Linked DNA regions of Homo sapiens: region 1 is linked to region 2. The links come from fine-mapping of genetic effects on gene expression. Tissue or cell type: whole blood. Region 2 holds a variant in brackets; the other region holds the start of a gene. All regions are shown on one strand. Distances are between the middles of the regions. Region 1 holds the start of RIOX2 (ribosomal oxygenase 2). Region 2 overlaps CRYBG3 (crystallin beta-gamma domain containing 3).

The links.
Region 1: it holds the start of RIOX2, and the variant in region 2 is fine-mapped to the expression of RIOX2 in whole blood (INTERVAL, PIP 0.94).

Annotation. Positions count from the first base shown.
Region 1 is chr3:97,970,777-97,973,691 of GRCh38, reverse strand. RIOX2 (ribosomal oxygenase 2) reads left to right here and starts at 1,261. Exons shown (of 10, transcript NM_153182.4): 1 at 1,261-1,311. It overlaps LOC124909398 (a long non-coding RNA gene), which reads right to left and starts at 1,039. Exons shown (of 2, transcript XR_007095976.1): 1 at 1-1,039. RefSeq lists a silencer at 1,077-1,516 and an enhancer at 1,787-2,046.
Region 2 is chr3:97,932,857-97,935,771 of GRCh38, reverse strand. CRYBG3 (crystallin beta-gamma domain containing 3) reads right to left here. Exons shown (of 22, transcript NM_153605.4): 18 at 1,939-2,078. Among named protein-coding and RNA genes, the nearest start is that of RIOX2, 38 kb to the left of the region's middle. The variant TA/A (reference allele first, on the strand shown) is at 1,071.

The DNA.
Region 1 (2,915 bases), 38 kb before region 2:
TGACTATTCTTTTTTACCCTGTAAGGGCTAAATTTGATGTTACCCTCGAGTTTTTCCAACTGGAACCTGCCAGGAAACTTACTAGTTATACGAGTATTAGTAAAACGTGAAAAAGACCAACAGTTGACTGACTGGTTTGGCTCTAATCTTGTTTCTGCATCTTCCTAGCTGTGTGATCTTGTGCAAGTTAGTTAACCTCTCCTGACTCAGTTTCCTCAACTGTAAAATGGAGGTAATTGCAAGGTTGTAGTGAGGATGAAGTGAGGAGTATTTGAAACACCTAGCGTGGTGCCTTATAGCCAGGAAGAACTCAATTCAAGACTTGCTATTATTGTTAGTTTTAGACAAATACTAGACAAGGGTGTACTTTGTTCCCATTTGTTCATGTGCCACTTGATCCTTAGAAGCAGCCACTGGTCTCAGTCACCTTGACGGAACGAAATGTCGACTTCCTCTGGGTCCTCTGGCTGTCTACAGAGCAAAGAAAGGCACAGGCCCGCCACTGATTTCCCTGCTCCCTCATTTGTGCCTCCTGACTGGAACCAAATGTTCCAAAGCAGGGAGTGTTAGGCTGAAAGGACTCAGATAACTGCATTTCTTCTGTTTCTATAGCCATAGTCGCAACGAATTTCCAGTATCTTTTAAAACTAGGATTGACTCTCTCTCCCGGAGCGAGATGATATAAATGACACTCGGCTTGTACAAATCAGCATTGTGTAGCCACACAGCCCATAAGAAAGCCATGGGAGAACCCGGACCACCAACTCCCTAAACTTGCACCGCTGGTATTCCTCTTCAGGCCTGCTTCTCTATTCATAAAAGGAACGGAGTTGCACCAAAACGCTCTCTCAAATCCTCTCCTGCCGCCCCAAGTTAAAAGAAAAAAAAGGAGAGCCGGGTGGGTGGCTCACACCTATAATCCAGCACTTTGGGAGGCCGAGGCAGGAGGATCGCTTGAGCCCGGGAGGTAAAGGTTGCAGTGAGCCAAGATCGCTACCACTGCACTCCAGCCTGGGCGAGAGTGAGACCTTGTCTCACATACCATAAAAAAAAAAAAAAAAAAAAAAAAAAAAAAAAAAAGAGGAAAAAAAAGGCCATTTATTTCCTTCCATATGGACTAAAGAAACGCCCGGGCGTGAACGCGGAACACCGCCGGGTAGCCAGGCCTCCGGGCTGCCACCACTTGCGGGCCGGCGTGGCGGGGCGGGGCGGGGGCTGGAGCACGGCCCGGAGCGTGCCCACGCTGCCCCGCCTCCAGCCGCTGCGCCGCAACGCAGTGGGCTCGCGGCCGCGAGCAACAGGCCGTGCCGGGTGAGTGGGGCGCTCTCGTGGGCATCCCAGCGCCGGGGCAGGCCGGGTAGTGCCCGATCCCGCGGGGCGCGCGCTGCTGCTTTAGGCACCCGGGCTCGGGTGCGGGTCTGGGAGACCTGTCGGTCGGCGAGAAGCCTCGGTGGCCGGCGCTGTGGTTGCGGGACCTGGGACGCGCTCCCAGGCGTCCCACCTCCCCGGAGACTGGGGCAGGGTGGGTGGGGCCCGGATCTAGGGGTAGGGTCGCGGAAGCCTTGGTTACAGAGAGTCGCACACGTGGCCTGCTAATGGTCGCGACACCGGTGACGAGCGCACGGAAAGTTTGGAGGCTTAGCAAGGAGGGTGGTGCCGGCCTCCGCCCGGTGGTGGCAGAACTGCCTGTGCGAGCACGGCTTCCACGTGGGCTGCGCCGCCGGGCGTCATGTCGGGCCTAAGAGACACGCTCTACAGCTGTGAAATCTGAAGTTCAGGTGTGTGGGGAGAAGGGCAGCTGCATTACATCATATGCTTCCAATTCATTTACCAGCAAATAATTCCGCAACGATTGGCCGACAGCTGGGTTGTCCAACAGGTTACTGAGACCAGGTTATTCACTGTTTTCAGGAAGGATAGACTGGGAGGAAGAGGATCTGATTTCGCCACTCATTAGCTGTAAATCTGGTGCCTCGGGTTTCATGTCACTGGGCTCATCTTTGAGCAGAGGAACCTGATTTACTCAGCTTCTTCTGCTGGTACTGGTTTTTGCCTCCTGGACATCAAGCTTTGTAACCTCATGGTCACGAAAATACATTGAGGTATAGTCCGTTTCCTCTCTAAAATCAGACTAAAAAGATAACTGCTGATCACTCCTTTAGGTCAATAGGAGAACCAGTTTTCCCTCTGGATTGATTAACATATCTCTGAGCCAAAAAGAAATGTTTTAGATCAGTCTGGGCAACCTTGTTACAAGCAATATATAATTTCTGACAGCCGTGTGTTTAACTGAGCTGCGTTTGACTGTTGTCCTCCATTAGTGGACCTAAAATTCATCTAGAGAGCGTATTACGTTAATGCAGATTATGGGCCTCAGCCATCAGAAGTGGCAATCCAGTGGGCTTGATGAGGGCCCAGAAATTTGCATGCTAACAACCTTGCTGGTAACTCTGAACTACATTCTGTAAAACTGCCCAGGGGATGTAGAAATTCATACTTCCCTCCCCGATTTAGTAATAACTACTGATGTCTAAAGTGCCTTTTAGCTTTTACGATACTCTTGAATCCTGAAGTGACAGCTGCAATCAGAAAAATAATCCCCTCTGCACAGGCCATCTGTTTTTTCCGTAACTGTTTTGTGTAAGGCCTTTGTGGTTTGTCTCCAAAATTGTATACAGACAAAAGATGAAAATGTGAAAAATTCAGCAGACATTTCTTGAGGACCTCCTATGTACCACACCGTGCTTGTTTCCGGGGATATACAAATCCTTTCCTTCAAGAGCTTCCTCACGTCTTCATGTCCTCAAATATTATAGAAAAGGAGGTTAGGGTACCTTTAAAATATAGTGACTGTCTGTCTGTTGCCTATAGTATGGTTGTCAACATTGATTTTCTTATAGGGTTTATCTGTGGGG
Region 2 (2,915 bases):
CAGAGCTCAGGAACAGGGTCATCCAGGGCTTAGGACACAAGCTACAGAGGGTTGCTTGTGCTGCTATGGCAGCAACTTCAGCCCCTCGATTTTCCAGATTAAAAACTTCTAAAATTCACAAAGTGCAATATTCCTTAGGGACTTGTTCTTCAGGTAATGCAGGAAAAGATACCAACTTGAGCATAAGTTGTGGGGAGAAGGGGAGAGCTGAGGAAAGCTTGATGTATTACAGCTATGAAAGCTTGGGTAGGGATGACTGACTCAACCTGACCACCACTAAGAAAAGTCCTCCTTGCTCCCCACAACCAAGATCAGACTTGACCAAATTATGGAGAGATGAATGAGATGGATGGCCCATTCTTGACCCCTCCTTCCTACACAAATCTAATCAATCAGACTGGTGGAGAGGCAGGTCAGCATGACCACGGACAGGCTTAGCTGCCTCTCCCGCTGCAGATTCTTTAAACTGTCAGGGAAGTTTCAGTTATAAAATCTAGGTAAGATTTTAGGAAAATGTACCTAATTATATATTGATTTAAATGAATTCCACAGTTGGAAAACTGTGTGGGATGGTGCATTTAAGCATGGCTGTCATCATCACAGATCAAAGATGTGGCATAGCATGGGGATTAAAACAAACCCAACTTGTAACTAAGGGAAGCTGGCTGTACATTAAGTAGTATTCTGTAACCTAGGAAAATCCTTAGGCAGCCTTCACTGTTCCTTACTCCATGTTCCAATTCTCTTAAAGAGAATTTGGAATAGTGAGAGTAGGTGGCTAATAAGCCAAAGAGAAGAAATAAGAATGTCAAGATAAAATGGCACCAGTGTTCCAGAAAAAAATGAAATAAGAAAGTGAGAAATTTTCAGAAGTGAGTCAAGTATCAATTTCACTCAGAAATGGGAAGAAATGAATTAAAATGTTGTGAAAGACCTATATCACAGGGATGTAAAATTTAGTTAATTGGTAAATAATATATTGGAATCTTATGCTTAGATAGAATAAATCAATTTGTCTGAATAAACATCAAACCATTTAAAATGTTTTGCAGAAGAAAACTTAAGCTATT[TA/A]TACAAGTGTATAATATAAAAGCCATTTATTATAATAGTTTGCTTAATTTTCACCTCCACTTATATTATTGGCTTTCTCTTTATCCCCAGATATTTAAACCAGCACAGTTGATTATCACGGAATTTCAAAGCCATAGAAAAACTTTTAAAGCCATTTTTTTATTAACCGTCAAGAGCTATGTGTGTTTTTTTAGTTGACTTTTGCTACCAGAACACTAACAGTGCAGGAGTAGGGGCTGGTTTATATGCCGGACTCTTCAGAACTGGATTCAGAGGCAGATTTTCCAGGAAGCAAACAGAGCTTCAACTTCAAGGCCCCTCACTTACAGGCTTCTCACCATTTCTGTCCTAAGTATTCACATTGATATCTAATATTTCTATCATAATTTTAAATTTTTTCTTAAAGGCAGCTTTCTAATTTGTAAAAGCACAGGCCCCTGGGTCTACCCTGACTGACTGATAACCTAAATGAACAACAATACTGGTAGGCAGGCTAGGCCAACCAGTGTAGTCCACAGGCAAGTGAGTACCCTGGAGGAACTGCTCTAGAATACATGGCTATTAAATCAAAAAACAACATCGAACTTGGTCTTGCCAGCAGTCACTTGCCTTAAGCAGGAAATTGTCTTAACCAAAGTTGCTGGGATATTGAAATTTCTTCTGAAAAGAAAGTTCAACTGGGTAAAGTCATTTGATTGACCTACTCTATGACACATGCTGTGACCATATGGTAGCCCTTCTCTTCCAAAGGGCTCTTCCTCAAGACCACTTGAATGCGTACTACTACACAGTGGACTTGGTTTGCAACTCTGCAACTCTGTCTTAAAACAGTAACTGAACCAGACCAAGCCTTTTTCCCATACTTACAGTCCACTTTTTACCCACACAGACTGGGTGTAGAAGTGTAGGTCCTTGTTCAGAACAGAGTTCACAGCCTCTTCTAGATGTAACTCTCTTCCCTCACAATGCTCCAGAGCAAAAAGGCTGATGGAGGGTTCTTCAAAAACCTATTAGCAGAAAAAGAAAGCGTCACCATAGGAGTGGCCATATCTCAGTGACATCCCAGTCTGAACACAGGGTACCCTGAATCCATTGTATTCTTAAATGCATGGAGTTTACTGTTTTACTCTCTAAGGTTGCTATAGTCAAAACTGCACTGGAAAGATTAGATTTTATTAATAATTTTTGTTCACTTTTTTGTAAACTAAAATTCAAGTTATCAGAAAAGCAATCAATCTCATAATAAAAACAGCCATAATAAAGAGACCCATGATTCCAAATCACAGATTAAGGTCTTGTGGTACTGTAATATGGACCATAATTAGTCCTGCCAATGCTTTTAGCTGGCAACAGAATAAATATGGAATGGAATGGCACCCTAATTTCTAGGAGGTCACAGGAGCAGTCACTAGGAATGTAAGACTCTGTGGTGGTAAGCTCTTAAAAATATTCCTAGGAGGAAGAATAAAGGCATTTTTAATTTAAAAAAAGCTGAAATGCACAAGAATGGTGGTGATTTCTGCATTAAAAGTATTTCTTCAACCCATCATGTCAGACAAGAATAGACTCAGTATTGCTTTTTCATTCATTAATGTATGCAAGACACCATGTTAAGAGACTTTTGGGGGGATGATAAAACAAGGCACCATCTATCCTTGTGTCTGGGGAATTACTAACAAATAGTTAAATTAAAACTGTACAGATATTGTAATGTAATCCAGTGCAGAAAAAGATATGCTGTGTCAGAGTCCTCAGTAGAAAGCTAGATTATTTTTAGCAGAAGGGAGCAGGAATCAAGCTTCATGGATGTGGTGGCTTGTGAGCTCAGTCTCAAAGGATGCAGT